Regions from separate parts of the Homo sapiens genome. Here region 2 is linked to region 1. A link means that fine-mapping ties the variant in region 1 to the expression of a gene that starts in the linked region. Tissue or cell type: whole blood. Region 1 holds a variant in brackets; the other region holds the start of a gene. All regions are shown on one strand. Distances are between the middles of the regions.

The links. PIP is the estimated chance that this variant, and not a neighbour inherited with it, causes the effect.
Region 2: it holds the start of CACNA1I, and the variant in region 1 is fine-mapped to the expression of CACNA1I in whole blood (INTERVAL, PIP above 0.99).

What each region holds. Positions count from the first base shown.
Region 1 is chr22:39,726,312-39,734,412 of GRCh38, reverse strand. No RefSeq gene overlaps it. Among named protein-coding and RNA genes, the nearest start is that of CACNA1I, 160 kb to the right of the region's middle. The variant A/T (reference allele first, on the strand shown) is at 3,460.
Region 2 is chr22:39,566,538-39,574,638 of GRCh38, reverse strand. It overlaps CACNA1I (calcium voltage-gated channel subunit alpha1 I), which reads right to left and starts at 3,886. Exons shown (of 37, transcript NM_021096.4): 1 at 3,651-3,886. The coding sequence starts at 3,886.

The DNA of each region.
Region 1 (8,101 bases):
TATATACCCAAAGGATTATAAATTATTCTACTATAAAGACACATGCACACGTATGTTTATTGCAGCACTATTTACAGTAGCAAAGACTTGGAACCAACCCAAATGCCTGTCAATTATACACTGGATAAAGAAACTGTGGCACATGTACACCATGGAATATTATGCAGCCATAAAAAAGAATGAGATCATGTCCTTTGCAAGGACATGGATGAAGCTGGAAGCCATCATTCTCAGCAAACTAACACAGGAACAGAAAACCAAACACCACATGCTCTCACTCATAAGTGGGAGTTGAACAATGAGAACACATGGACACAGGGAGGGGAACATCACACACTGGGGCCTGTTGGGGGGTGGGGAGGGGACAAGGGGAGGGAGAGCATTAGAACAAACACCTAATGCATGCGGGGCTTAAAACCTAAAATACAGGTTGATAGGTGCAGCAAAGCATCATGGCACATGTATACCTACGTAACAAGCCTGCACATTCTGCACATGTATCTCAGAACTTAAGGTAAAAGAAAAAAAAAAGAAAACCTTAAAAATAAAATAAATGTTAAAAATGGGGTTGAAGCCAGGTGCAGTGGGGCCTGTAGTTTTAGCTACTCATGAGACTGAAGCAGGAGGATTGCTTGAGCCCAGGAGTTCAAGGCCACCCTGGACAACATAGTGAGACTCTATCTCTAAATAGGGATGAGCTCCAGAATTCCGGTTTAATAATAATAATAGTAGTTGACACTTAACAAACACTAACAATGTCACGAGCATGTTTTAATCCTCTTAACAACCCTACCGGGAAGGTTAGATCGTCACATTGTATATGAGAAAACAGAGACTAAAATGAGCTAAGGAACTTGTCCAGGGCCACACAGGCAGTAGTCAGGGTCAAAGCCAGACCTTGAACCATGGTCTTGCTTAGAGCTACACACTGCCTCACAGTTGGTGCCATTGGCTGGGCCAGGCAGATGGGAAGAAGGGGAACAGGTCCAGCCGGGCCATCCCTTGCTTCTGCCTTTCCACCCCTGCCCCTCAGTCTCATCCTGCTCTCAGGCTGCCCCAGTCCCACTGCCAGGAGCTGCTGGGCTGCAGCCGCACCCCAGACCCTCTGGATCTTCTTTTGGTGCCTCCCATTTCTGAAGAGTTGTCTGCCTCCACCCACACTTCCCAATCCCTTCCCTGCCCCTTTCATTTCAAGACCCAAATTAGCAGAGGCTGGGACAGGAGTAGAACATTTTTAGAGCTGGTTTGGAGATGAAGAGCCTGTCCCAATTTCTCTTTCTCACCTAATCAAACCTTGAGAATGTCATGGAGCCCCCACACACTTTGATTTTAATTGGGGACTGTTGTCACTGTTTCACCCTGGGGGAGAATTTTCGTTTACTACAATGGGGTCTCTGTCTCTGGAGTATGTAATATGCTCCTGAAAATCACACAGAGCAACCCAGAAATAGCCAACAGAGACTAAAGAAAAAAATATGAATTCAGGGACATAAAGCAATAATATGTCCATACTTTTGAAAAATAAAGTGGGGGCACTTAGTAGTGTCTCTTTAGCGGTTAGTTTCATCATCCCTGTGCTGCCGATGGGCGTCTGCTTTCCCTCCACACGCATTGTGTAGGGGAGTGGCCGGGAGGGCCACCAACCCCAAAGGAGCAGCTTCTGTTCACATAAAACCTGTTCTGTTCCACCTGTGCACGCCCTCGCCACCTCCCCAAAGCCAAAAGTCGGGGGGGAAAATGAGAAACAGCACCTCACTGGATTAAGCCAAATGTGAGGGTAAACACAATGTGAAAAGCACCAATTCCAAGGATAAAGAGAACCAGCAAAAGAGGAAAACAAGCCCGTCACCCCGCGCCAGTAAGAAGGCCAGGTTTAGCCGATCTCACAGGAGAACAGATCTAACTCCTGGGGACCAGCAGCGCCGAGAGCTTCTCTCCATTTCACAAGGTCAGAATGGTAAGTCAGTAGCAGACCCACTGCAGACAGCATCGGCTGGCAGCCGGAAAGCCTTTGGAGAAGGGACCGATGGGACCTCACTGAGAAGCTGATTGGAGGATGACAGAAGCAGGCAGGGGCAGGAGGTTGGTCTTCCTGGCAGGCAGGGAGGCATGGTCTCCAGGGGGCAGGCCCAGCAGGCTCACTGCTTCATTGTCCCCCCTGGGGCTGTCAAGGATCCATTTAGCCACAACTCTCGTGTGTTCATATGTACACGAGGGAGGGACCCTTACAGAGAGGCACAGGAGCTGCACCTCCAGCCCTGTCCATCAGATCCTCGTGTGTGCCCCAAAGTAAATAGGAGCCACCAGAAGCTGTGAGACCTGCAGGGGGATGGGCTTTCCGAACCCTCTCCACAAAGGCTGCCCAGCAGAGGGGGTGGCCTTTCCACTGAGCTCTGCTCCTGACCACGTCTTGTCCTTCCCAGGGGAATTTGTCTGCAGCTCAACAGATGGGTGCCGGTGTACTCACTTGTCTGTGGGGACCACTACTGAGTGTGTTTCTGCCACCTCTGCCTCTAAATTGTCATTGCTGTATTGATAAGGATGGCTGCAATTATCGCCTTAACTAGCCATGGTCCCCGTCAAGGACAGGAATAGTGTGTGGCTTAGGAACAAGGGGTCCCACAGCTCTTACCTGCTGCTTGGCGGGGGTGGGGGTGGCTGCCAAGTGTCATCCAGGGGCCTGTGGCTCTCTGCTTTGTTTTACTGTAGGAAGCTCTGGGAGGAAAAAGTGAACCCACAAGTTAGCGGGATACACTGGTTGTTTGCCTCAGAAGGTGTCCACTGCTCAGTCTGGCCAAGTCCCCTGGGCCTTGTGCTTCCTGACACTTGTGGAGCACTCTACAGTCGGCAAAGCACTTACCACATCTCTGTTTGGCCTCATTGCCCCCTGGAGAGCTAGGCAGAGGAGGAATGGAGGACTCAGAGAGGCTGGGTCACTAGCTTGAGGTCACACAGCTCTGAGCAGTGGGCTGGTGCCTCCCTCAAGATTTCTGATGCGAGCCATGTCTTAGTCATTTGCGCTGCTGTAACAAAAGGCCATTGGCTGGGTGACTTGCAGACAAGAGAAACGTAGCCCTCACAGTTCTAGAAAACTTCTCATTATAGCGTCATGAGGCAGGAAAGAGGGTGAGAGAGCTTTCTGGGGTCTCCTTTATAAAGGCACTAATCCCACATGAGGGCCCCACCCTCGTGACCTAATTACCCCCCAAAGGCCCCACCTCCTAATGTCATCACATTATAGGTTAGAGTTTTGACATCTGAATTTGGGAGGGACACATTCAGTCCATAACAGGAGGCATCCTCTCCCGCTGGTTATACGGCCCCCAGCCCCCTCCCCTAGCACAGGGAAGCATCAGGATTCAGTCAGCTGCCAACAACTCAACATGGAGTCCCTGCCCTTAAAATTGTCACATATATATATATATATATATATATATATATATATATATATACACATAT[A/T]TATTTTTTTTTTTTTTGAGACGGAGTCTCGCTCTGTTACCCAGCATGGAGTGCAGTGGCGTGATCTCGGCTCACTGCAAGCTCCGCCTTCTGGGTTCAGGCCATTCTCCTGCCTCAGCCTCCCGAGTAGCTGGGACTACAGGTGCCTGCCACCACGCCTGGCTAATTTTTTTGTATTTTTTGGTAGAGACGGGGTTTCACCATGTTAGCCAGTATGGTCTCGATCTCCTGACCTTGTGGTCTGCCCGCCTCAGCCTCCCAAAGTGCTAAGATTACAGGCGTGAGCCACCGCGCCCAGCCTCTATATTCTTAATCTCATAGATTAGCTTTGTTTAAGCCATCGACATATTTCATCATCTCTAATATATAGAAATTAGTGTTTTCATGTGGCTCATTAATCTTGGCTTCTTCCTCTAAGAAGGTCAAAGTTATTGGAAATGATGTTACACAAAACCAGGACCCCTCAGAGTCTGCAGATGAGCTGAAGCAGGAGGGTGGTTATCACTGATTTCGTCTAGATGCCTAAATGACAGTCGGTAAGAGGGTGAATTTCAGCGACCAATCTGCTGCGGTCTGTGGTGATGCTGTTCCGCTGTTTACCATTAGAGCATAGCGGTGTTTGCCACGTTCTTAGCATGTGATCATTACCACATGGAAAAATAAACACAGATGCTTCAATATTAATAGACAATCAATTAATTCCTTAAAATTGCAAATGTTAAAGAGTTTGTAAATAACCCTGGGAGTGGGACAGGGTTGGGAGTGAGCACGTGTCTTTCCCGTGATTTCTCTGCGGGAGGAATGCCCAGGTCTCCAGGCCTTGCGGAGTGTTCATCTATACCCTGGGCAACACAGCGGCACTTACAATGTGATACGATAAGAACACGATCTTTACCACAGCTCTTTGGGGGCAGAGGCGGGGGACGGGGGGCGACTTCCGGTGCGAATACTGGTGTTACCAGAAACATCACCAAAGCCCTCGGCCAGAAGCTGAGCTGTTCTGTTTGCTACAGGGCCCTGATTTTGCAGAGGAAGAGGGCTGTCGTCACTGGGAACCAAGATGAGGGGTTCCAACAGCAGAGGGGAACCAAGTGCACCACGATGTCCCCTGTACTAGTTCCCTGGGGCTGCCCTAACAGGGAGCCACAGACTGGGTGACTTAAAATACCAGAAGCTGATGGTCTCCCAGTTCTGGGAGCCTGGGATACAGGCATCAGAAGGCTCAGTTCCCTCTGAGGGCGTCAGGGAGAATGCAGCACAGGCCCCCTTTCTGTTGCCACTCTCCTGGTGGCGGCAGTCCGTGGCGTGCCTTGGCCTGTCCTCTGCCTGGCCGCAGCCTTCTCCCGGTGCCTCTCCACATCATTCCCTAAGCACGTGGCAGTCTCTGCCTCCAAATTTCCCTTTGATAACAGCACGAGGAGATTGACTTAGGGCTCACCCCATGGCCACATCTTCATTTTATTACCCTTATAAAGACCCTGTTTCCAAATAAGGTCACATGCAGAGGCACCTGGGGTTGGGACTCCAGCATATCTTTTCTGAGGAACACAGTTTGACCTGTAACCCTTTTCCCACAGGCAGCCTCTCCTCTACTCAGATGTGAACACACACTTCAACAAAAGCAGGCACCTCCCCCGGGAACTCACTGGGCTTGGCCCAGTTCTGATCCCAGCAGAACTCGGTGTAACCCAAGGCCAGCCCTTCTGTGTGGCCTTGTCACCATGAGGAAACTACACACAGGTGTGGGAGGCACCTGCTTCTGGAAGGCACAGTTCCTGGGATCAGATCGTCCTGGTTTGAGCCCAGGCCCTGACCCTTCCTGGCTCTGCGGCCCTAGACCGTACTCAGCCTTTCCAGGCCTCTGTTCCTTCGACTGCCTCGGAAAGTCATCATACCCACCTTGCCTGGTTATTGTGAGAATTAAAGGAAATCATGCTTACAAGATGCCCTGGACATAGAAGATGCTCAAAAATTATTAGTCTCCTTCTCTCATCTCCATGATTCCCACGTCTTGCATAGTCCTGGGATTTTAGGTTGACCTGACACTGTTCGATGATTCCGCAGCACGTGTATGCTCCTCCAGCTGAATTCGCGGTTCCGTTAATTGACAAGGAGGAGCATCTTTCGGTGCCTGGCTTTTTGGCATACACCAAGGGTACCAAGTCGCTGATGTGCTGCCTTCTTTGAAAAGGATATAGGCCAAACCCCAGCCTGGAACTGACTGACTGTCGCAGCATCTCTCCAGGTCCCACCTTGCGTGGGCCTTTGTGTCTGCCATACAGAAATCAATTGCCCTGCTCCAGGAGCCTGCCTCCCAAGGAGTAGCACTCAGAAGAGAACAGCTGTGCCAGGGCGGCGTCCCTCTGGTCGGGGGCTCTAACAGACTCTCACCTCCCAACCCCCACCTCAGGGCAGATGAGGCTGTCACCTGCTTCAAAATGATGCTTGTTGGGAGGGCTGCCCTTTGCTGGGGTCACCGCCACCTCACTTTTGTAGGTTCAGAAACGCTCACTTTATCAGCCTTTCTGGAGGGGCTCAAGCCCAAAGAGTGTGGATTGGAATAGCCCAGACCCAAAGACCGCTTCATGGGCCAGGGAAGCTTCTAGCTCCAGACTCTCCAGGATCTATTCATTTGTTTATTTAGTCATCCATTCAGTGCACACCGTGGAGGGCTAAGCACTTCCCCATGTTAACTCACTTAATCCTAAATATAATCCAGACAGGTATTGTCAGCCTCCCTCTTACAGATGGGGAAACTGAGGTTTGAAGGTCAAGTGATTTTCCCACATGCCTGCTCTAGTGGTGAGCACAGGATAAAGTCAGGAAGAGCACGGGAGACCAGCGAGAAAAGCCAAAAGCCATGGGAAGAGGAGACTGGGGCGGCGGGGGGTGGTGGCGGGGGGTGGCGGCGGGGGCCGGGCAGACTGAAAACCTGGGGGGCACCAGTTCAGCAGGACAATACGTGAGTGTTTTAGGGACTATGAACTGCTGCCTGGCATCTTCCCACCTCTTTAAGGCATCTCTAGCTAACCACAGATGTGCCCCCCAGAAAGCATGCCCTTCTTAAAATCCTTAAGCCAATGCGTTCCATCAGCTTTTGCGAAGTTATGGTGTGGGAGCAAGCCCGGTCCCCAGCGGCTTAGAGCACTCACGGTTTGTTTCTCACTCGGGGTAAACATCAGCTGCTGTCGGATGAGGCTCTGACTCACACATCTCCATCTTTCCGGGATCCGGGCTGAAGGAGTGGCCACGTTCTCATGGCAGAGGAGAAAGAACACCGGCGGGACCGCACGACAACTTTTACAACTTCTTGCAAGTGTTGCTTCTCTCCTATTTTCTTGGCCAAAGTGAGCCATGTGGCCGAGCCTGCTGTCACTGGGGCAGAAAATAATTGGCAATATAAACTACAGTCACAGGTTATTGATACTGCTGGTCTCCATTTTCTAGTTCACAAAATGGAAAGAATATCAGTTCCCTCTTAATGAGGCACTTACAAAGATTAAATGAAATATGGCCGGCAGCACAGTACATTGTAAATTGACTTACAATTTCCTAGTGCCCAGCACAGGGGCTGGCATAGAGTGGGTGCTCAATAGACATTTGTGGAACTTTATTCATCAACAAATATTTACTGCACACCTGCTCTGTGCCAGGAACTATTCTAGGCTATTCTAGGCTAGCTTTTAGGATCTAATAGAGAACAAGACAAGCAAGATCTCTATTCTCATGGACCTCACGTTCCAGTTAGTGGGAAACAGACAACAGACAGCTAAGAACTTCAGAGAGTGGTAAGAGCTGTCAAGAAAATGAAACAGAATTAATAAGAAACAGGGTAGGGAGTAAAACTAATCTAGCCAGGCACAGTGGCTCATGCCTGTAATCCCAGCACTTTGGGAGCCAAGGCAGACGGATTGCTTGAGCTCAGGGGTTTGAGCCCAGCCTGGGCAACATGGAGAAACCCTATCTTTACAAAAAAAAAATACAAAAATTATCCAGGCCTGGTGGTACATGCCTATAGTCCCAGATACTCAGGAGGCTGAGGCAGGAGGATCACCTGAGGACGGGAGGTCAAGGCTGCAGTGAATCGTGATCATGCCACTGCACTGCAGCCTGGGCAACAGAGTGAGACCCTGTCTCAAAAAAATAAAGACTAATCAAGAAAGACTCCCCCAGATAGGTAACTTTGAGCTGAGATCTGCATGATGAGGAGCCAGTCTTGAAAAGATAAAAGGTAACAACATCCTGGGCAGAAAGGGGATCCTGCGTGCAAAGGCCCTGAGGCCAGGACGAGTTTAGGAAGGCCACTCAGGCAGGGGTGTCCCGAGCACATGGCAGAGCCACAAAGAAGGACGTCGGAGACCAGGAGGAGTTTAAGAAAGTCACTTAGGCAGGGGAGTCCCGAGCACATGGCAGAGCCACACAGAAGGACGTCAGAGAAGCAGGCAGGGAACTTCATCCCTTTTCTAGTCTCTTGCTGTCCTTTCTAGCACATAAATCCTTTAAGGACAAGGTCACCAGAACCTAGCGCAGTGCCTGGAGCATCCCAAAGATCTGGGAAACACCTGCTGGGGAAAGAATTCCATCAGGGTGGGACAATGGCCACACCAGAGACAGAGCTGCCCATCCCCTAGAGGGGGCTTCT
Region 2 (8,101 bases), 160 kb after region 1:
CAAAGCACCGTCAACCCCCAAATGCCAATGGTGTCCCATTGAGGAGTACAAGCTTAAGCACTGCCCCAGGCCCCCTCCCACAGAGCACAAGAGGGAGTGAAGTTTCCAGCCAGGAAAGAATCCTAGAGGCTTCAGCCCCTGCCCCACCCACACACGCACCCCATCCCAAGCCCCTAAAGCCCACCCTGAGCTCCCCACGACTGAGTCTCTGCTCCAGGGGACAGCCCTATGGACAGCCACGTCTCCTGGGTCTCTGTTTGTGGAACCCTCCTTGGCCCCTCTCCCACCTGACCCAATTCAGCTATGAACTCTCAGGCCAGCAGCGGCTGCAGCCACCGGGTCCAGAATCCTCCAACTCGTAGGCACACAGCATCACAGCCACCAAGTCTTAGGCTCACACACTCTTTGAAACACAGAATTTTGCAGCCTTTGAATGACAGAAGCTTAGAATTTCAGTGTCGCTGAGCCTTAAATCTTAACTTTGAACCCTTAGACTGTCGCAGAAGTTTTCAGTCTGAGTGTCCCAGAGCTGACACCTTTAAAGTTGCTGTGCTTTTGAGTCGCCACATCTCTGGCCTGAAGAGAGTCCGTATCCCACCAGTTAAGGCCGAGACCTGAACCACCTCTATCCCAGTCCAGCCTCAGCAGCCCTGGCCATGGGGATGCCGGGGGAACCCTCGCTCTGCGCAGCTCCCGGGACTGAAAAGTCCCTCCTGATGGAGGGGGGCTGCTTTCTGCCCCACCCCTTGGACCCAGGGCTCTCTCCAAGACAGACAAGAGGCAGGCCCAGCTCCTCCCGAAACCAGTACTCCTCTCCCTCCTGGGCCAGCCCCACTGTTGTCTCCAACCCCAGGCCACAACCCACATGACCTGAGGATGGAGGTGAGAGGGGTGGTGAAAACCAAGGAGACAGTGGCCCCAAGGACTCTGTTTGCCCAACAGGCCAGAAATATGGAAAACTGGGTGGGTTCCCAGGGGCTGGCTCACTCAGTGGTCAGGCGTCAGGGTGCCTGAGATCAAGGCAGCCCCCATGGCGTGTGTGGCTAACACCCTGGGCTCCCAGGGCTGGAAGGGGTGATTCGTCTGCCGTCTCCTTTTTAGGTGGAGGTGCTGAGGCTCAGAGAGAGGAGACTGCCCAGGGTCACACACATGGCAGACAGGACTTGACCACCCCCATCTAGGGGCCTCTCCGTGACACGTGGGCAGCACCCCAGCCAGCCCAGCCAGAGCCCATCAGAGACGCAGCTGGGTCAGACTCCCAGGCCAAGTCCTCTGAGCCATGCCCCTGCCTCCAGCCCAGAGCAGTATTGCCCATCCAGACCCCCTAAGGTTCAAAGAAGCAAAGTGACTTACTCATGGTCACACAGCACCCAAGTGACAGAGCCAGAATCAACTCTTGTCATCTCACCCAGGAAAGGCCCCTGAGACATTGTGAAATTGTCCCCCTGGTCCTCCTACCAGCCTTTCTCTTCCTAAAGGCCCAAAATTCCTGCGGCCGCCCCCTTCTCAGGCCTGGCACTCCTCTGTTCACATGCCACAAGCCCCTGAGGTTTCCCCAGTGCTTTGTATTAAAACTAGCCACGTAGGCTGGGCACAGTGGCTCACACCTGTAATCCCAGCACTTTGGGAGGCCGAGGCAGGCGGTTCACGAGTCAGGAGTTCGAGACCAGCCTGACCAACATGGTGAAACCCCATCTCTACTAAAAATACAAAAATTAGTAGGGCATGGCGGTGGGTGCCTGTAGTCCCAGCTACTCGGGAGGCTGAGGCAGGAGAATTGCTTGAACCTGGGAGGCGGAGGTTGCAGTGAGCCGAGATCGCGCCACTGCACTCCAGCCTGGGTGACAGAGCGAGACTCCATCTAAAAAAAAAAACTAGCCAAATGGGTGGTCCCTGCTTCCCTCTTCCCCGGGCACTCCCTGGGACAGACACCAGCTCTGCCTCTTTGTCCTCAGTGTCCCAGGGCAGATGTCAGTGAGTGCTGGGTGAACTAATTACCGAGCAGACCCTCTCACCAAGCCTGAGACGCTGTGAGCCGTCCCCCAGAAGGAGCAGGGAGGCTCTTAGCCCCCACCCAGCAAGGAACACCCAGTTCTGCATCCCACTCCAGCAGAGACCCGCTGGTTTCCAAAAGTTAGGGGGATCCAGGGCCCACGATCACCTCAGCCCCCTACAGAAGGGAAGCCTGGCAGTCCTGCAGCCAGTCTCAACATCCCAGCCTGCATCTGGCATCCCTGGATTCCAGGGCAGGACTCAGGCCTGCACCTGACCCACCAGCTCCCCGCACCCTGCCCTGTGTGGCCACAAGCACCAGAACCTCGAGCCACATATGGGCATTTTTTGGTGGGACCCTCAAACCACAAGGCCACCATGGCTTGGGTCCCCAAGCCTCCTCCTCAGTGGTCCCCAGCCCCCACTTCACCCTGCAAGCCAGTGCCACACAGTCCTTCCAGAGCACAGATCTCTCCAGACCCTGCTTCAAATCCTGCCCTTGGAGCACAGTCCCATCCCTCATGCAGCCTCCAAGGCCCTGCAGGGCTCCCGCCACACCTGCAGCCTCACCTCACTCCTCTCTGCCCCTCAGGGCTCCAACACTGCCTGCAACTCCTCCCTTCTCCAGGCTTCGCTCCTGCCATGCCCTCCTCCTGCCTCCCACTACCCTCTCTACCCAACCAACGCTCTTCCTTATTGAGGAGTCAGCTCTGGCATTGCCCATGTACACCCAGCAAACACTGCCAGAGCACCCACGATGTGCCAAGCACTGTGCCAGGTGCTAGGGTCCCCATCCCAGTCATCTGACAGTACCCCAGGGGAGGCAAATGTTAGATTCAGAATTCCACAGTTAGATGTGACAGTTAGATATGAAGCAGAGGAGGAATCCCAGAGGGCTTCCCTGAGGAGGTGATGCTTAAGCTGGGATTTTAAGGATGTAGCAAAGGATTTGGCCAGGTCCAGGGGGAAGGGAAAAGCTTTTCAGACAGGGGGAAGAGCCAGTGAGAGGACCCTGAGGCTCAGAAGAGCACAGGGGGGAAGCCAAGTGGTGGGAAGTGAGGCTGGGTGGAACACACAGGCCCTGATGGGTTGGATTAGGACTTTGCTCTGCACCTCCAGGACCATAGCAAATCATGACAGTCTTAAGCAGGGGGAACATGAGCCCACTGGAGGCAGCAAGTGGAGGCAGGAGGCCTGGGAAGAGGCTGCTCGGAGGCACAGTAAGGAGAATGAGTCCTGCCCTGTGTGTTGGGATCGGCTGCCCCGCTGCCCACGCCCACAGTTCCTGATCACGGCTCCCATCCTCTGTATGGTCACGGCCCATCAGGTGGCTCCAGAGTCTGACTGATCTGCATTCCCAGCCCAGCACAGGTCTGGGGCCCACACTCAAGGACTTTCTGAGCCAGCCAGCCACTGGACTGACCCCACAGCCACCAGCAACTTCCAGAACCTTCACATCAGCAGAACACCAGGTCCTCATCCATTTGAGGTCTCCCCAGACCCACCCTCTGAGCTCGCTCACCACCACCAAGGCCCAGTGGCCTCACCGCAGACCTCAGGTCTCCCAGCCGGAGCAAGGTGTGAGCAGCAGGACTCAATCCAGCCCCCCACCCTTCAGCCCCTGCAGGGCCCCGATCAGCCGAGGCTGCGGAGGATATGGGTTGCACACCATCTTGATGCACCAGTTCCGGGGGCTGGTGGTCTGTCGCAGGCAGAAGAAGGCAATAGGCGCCAGGTCTGGGTGTGGGACATGAGGATCAGCTCCATCCAGAGGCTCCTCCAGGCCTGGCGGGGAGGATGGGGGGCTCCGGGGTCCGGGCTGCTCCGTGGTGACTCCTGGCTCAGCGGCTGGGGCTGCTGCAGATGAGGAGGGCGGGGAGGCGCTCTCAGCCATGTCCACACTGAGCTGGGAGCCCTGGGGAAGACAGAGAGGGTGGCACGTGGTGGGGACAGGCCTGGTACATGCTCCCCAACCTGCCTCTCCACCAATAAGTGGACGGATGCAGCTCTGACAGCCCCACCTGAGCCCCACAGGCCCCTCACCCTCACTCTTGCATGAGGATTACGAAACAGCTGAGGGCCCAGCTGCACCCAACTTGGAATCTGCTTCCAAGCTGGGTGATCATGGGGCAAGTCTGCTCACCCTGGCTGAGCCTCAGTTTTGGCAAACGAAGATAGTGGGGAGAATAAAGCCTTCTTAGAATATAATTGTGATATTAACTCTTTTTTTTTTGTCTATTGGCAATTTTCTGTATTTGAAATCTTTCATTATTTAAGAGAAAAAATGTTTAAGTAATTATAGACAGAAAAGAAAGACGGAAGGGAGGGAGAGAGGGAGAGAGGGAGGGAGGGAGGGAAGAAAGGAAGGAAGGAAGGAAGGAAGGAAGGAAGGAAGGAAGGGATCTTAACTTTTTTACAAGACTAGAGCTATGTATTTATTGCACCATCAAAGGTAAAGAAAACTTGCAAGAAAAAAGAGGTGATTGTAAAGACAGACATTATTGCCAGGACAATGCAGGTTACAAAGGCAATGTTGGGGTGCTGCAGAATCAGAGACTGGGGGAACGCTGGCAAGCCAGGAGGGAATCACAGTTGGCTTCCCTGAGGAAGTAACCCCTGAGCTGAGACCTACAGCTGAGCCCTTGACCCAGGGACCTCCCAGCCACTGCCTTACAAGGCTGAGAACCCAGGAATCTTAGAGTCTAACCTCCTTGCCTTACAGATGAAGAAACCGAGGCCCAGAGAAGGGACAGGACAGACATGTAGCAGAGTAACAGCAGAAATAGAATTCCAGTCAAAGGCCAGGCACGTGACTCACACCTGTAATCCCAGCACTTTGGGAGGCCAAGGTGGGTGGATCACCTGAGGTCAGGAGTTTGAGGCCAACCTGGCCAACATAGTGAGACCTCATCTGTACTAAAAATACAAAAATTAGCTGGGTGTGGTGGCACACGCTGTAATCTCAGCTACTCGGGAAGCTGAGGCATGAGAATCACTTGAACCCGGGAGGTGGAGGTTGCAGTGAGCCAAGATCACACCACTGCATTCCAGCCTGGGCAACAGAGCAAGACTCTGTCACCAAAAAAAAAAAAAAAAAAGAATTCCGGTCAGAGCCCGCTTCCTGGGTCTGTGGCTCAGGCAGCTGCACAGGGCCCCGTGCTCAGAAGGGCCCTGAACTTGCTTTAGAATTCTTCTGTCACCAACATGAAATTCTTAATTGCTTATCAAGAGGTCCCACATTTTCATTTTGTTCTAGGTGATGCAAATCATCTTGCTGGCTCCGACTCCAACTCAAAGCACTTCTACTCCCTGGCCTTGTCTGATGCTCACAACAACCTCAGGAGGACTATTATGCCCATTTGGCAGGTGAAGAAACTGAGGCCAAGAGAACAAAGCGGGTTGTCAAGGCTATGCACCCAGCCAAGTGAAGCACTAGGTGGTGTTGAGAGGCCAGAATCCCAGCACCAGACCCCCAGGCGGGCTTCATGACAACTGATGGTGCCCTCGCTGGCCGAGAGCCTCCGCAACCAGTCAATGGCAAGATGGGACGGACAGCCACTCCCAGGGCCTGCCCCTCACCACCTCACCCCAAAGGGTACTAGTCCCTAAAACTTTGTCCACTGGGGTCCCTGGGATCCTAGAACCCCTACAGGGCCAGTCTGAGCCGTGGGATTGAGAGATGGGGTCCACGTCCCTGGTGCCCACCCAGCTGCTGCTGGGCTGTCGACCAAGCCACCCGGAGCTGATGCATTTGGACATTTCTCTGGCTCCCGGGGGCAACGGGCAGGGGTTGGCACCTCCTGCCACTTCCCCTGGCTGGTCAGGGAGGCGGAGTTTTCTCCTGAGCTCAGGGCTTTGCTCTTGATTCCAGAAAAACAGCCACGGGCCTTACATAAGCTCCCAGGCACCTTGGCCTGCCACGTGTCAACCTCCTGGGCTGAAACGCACCCTCCCTAGGGTGGTTCCAGCTCTGCCCACCACCGTGCCAGCCTCGGAGCCCACCACTCCCTCCCCTGGCCATTTGCTCTGGCCAGATTGGACCTCCTCAGGTCCTAGGCCCTGCTCCCGCTCTTCCCTCTCACTGGGGCACCTTCTCCTTCCGCCCAGGCCCTGTTCTCCCAGGCCCTACTGATTCATTCATTTGCCCAATGAGCACCTACTATGTGTGGGCACTGTGTGGGCTTCGGGCTATGCTGGGGCACGAGCCAGACTCAGCACCAGCCCCCATTCAGCCCACACTTCCGCAGAGGAGAGAGACACACCGATCAATTAATTTCTCTCTTTCTGCTTTTCCACAACTCTTATCACCATCAAACACGGTGCATAATTTATGTCTTTATATCTCCATGATTTGGTGTCTGTCTCCCCAGCCTAAGAGAAGCCTGTAAGGGAGGTGTATCCCCTCACTGCTGTATCCCCAGCACCTGGAATGGTGCCTGGAGCATACTAGGTGCTCAATCGATATTTGTTGACTCAGTGAATAAAAAGTGCTGGGAAGTAAATAAACAAGGGGAAAGGTGGGAGTGGAGACAATCATCTTGCCCTCTCTAAAGGAAGAGATGTTTAAGTGAAAACCAAGACGCGGGAGGCCGCAGCCCTGACTGATCTGCTGGAAGAGCACAGGAGGAAGAGCACGTGCGAAGGCCAGGAGAATGGGGCCCGCTCGGTGCATTTAAGGAACACAAGCGAGGCCGAGCCTCGGGCAGGGAGGCGGATGAAACCAAAGAGTTCAGCAGGGCCCTGGGGGAGAACACAGAGGAGCGTGGGTTTTATCCCAAGTTCAGTAGAAGCCACAGGTGGGTTTTAGGCAGGGGAGTGGTGTGCTCTGGTCTGTTTCTAAGCCATCTCTCCAGGGGCTGAAGGGAGAGTGGATGAAGGGGAAGGGGTGGAGCAGGAAGGGCTGGGAGGAGCTGGGCTGGCCTGCCCTTGGCTGCTGGTGAAGACAGGGAGAAGGCGGTGGATTGAGATTTATTCTCGAGGTAAAGCACCTGGTCTCGCAGCAACTGCAGTGGCCCACCTGCAACCCTCGCCCCAGCATTACCGAAGTCCTTCCTGAAACCACACAGGTGGAAAGAGCTCCCCCGGCCTCCGGGACTGCACAAAACTACCCACTTCCTGCCTCTGGGCTACGTCGCTTGCACTGACTTGCTTGTTGCCTCTCTTGGCTTGTTTAATGCCGCCACACTGTGCTGCCCTCTGTGCTCACACCTCTCCCCTCACTGTGGTGCTCCCAGAAACCACACCCCTAAGGCCACCACCCTCAACTCTCTCCCCAGTGTCCACCCAGCCTCCACCCTCTGACCTGCTCCCAGCGGCCACCCAGCCTCCACCCTCTGACCTGTTCCAGTGACCACCCAGCCTCCACCCTCGGACATGCTTCCAGTGACCACCCAGCCTCCACCCTCTGACCTGTTCCCAGTGACCACCCAGACCATCTCCCTCTGACCTGTTCCTTAGCAGCTTCCCAGGCCACTACTCCCTGACCCACTCCCCACTCCCAAAGCCCCCAAGTCCAGTCCAGATATCTCTCTTTCCTGTGTCTGTGGCCTAGCTCCTATCGCAGGTGCCTGTGTGCCCATGGCTGGAAGCCCTGAGGGGACTGGCAGCTGGGCCTCCCTGGGCTCCAATCTGTCCGCAGTCACAGAGACTAAAGGACTTGCTTTAGGTGACAGCATTGGTGGATTCAAACTCAGGTCCATCAGGTGCCAGAGTCTGAGCTGCCTCCACATCCCTGAGTCCCCTTCTTCTAGGTGCTCCCAGGACCTAACCCTGATGCTCCTTCCCCTGAGTAGCCCACCAAGCAGCAGTGTGGCAATTAGGCTGGCCTCCAAGAGCAGGGATAGGAGCAGAAGCCTGCTGTGTCTGGAACACAGACCCCCATTCCTGACTCCGTCAGCTTCTTAGAGCCTCAGTTTTTCTCTGTAAAGCTCAGCCCTCCTCCAGCCTGCTTCAGCAGGCTCTTGTTAAGAAGCAACATGATGGGCTGCCAGGTGTGGTATCTCACGCCTGTAATCCCAGCATTTTGGGAGGCCGATGCGAGTAGATCATCTGAGGTCAGGAGTTGGAGACCAGCCTGGCCAACATGGTGAAACCCCATCTCTACTAAAAA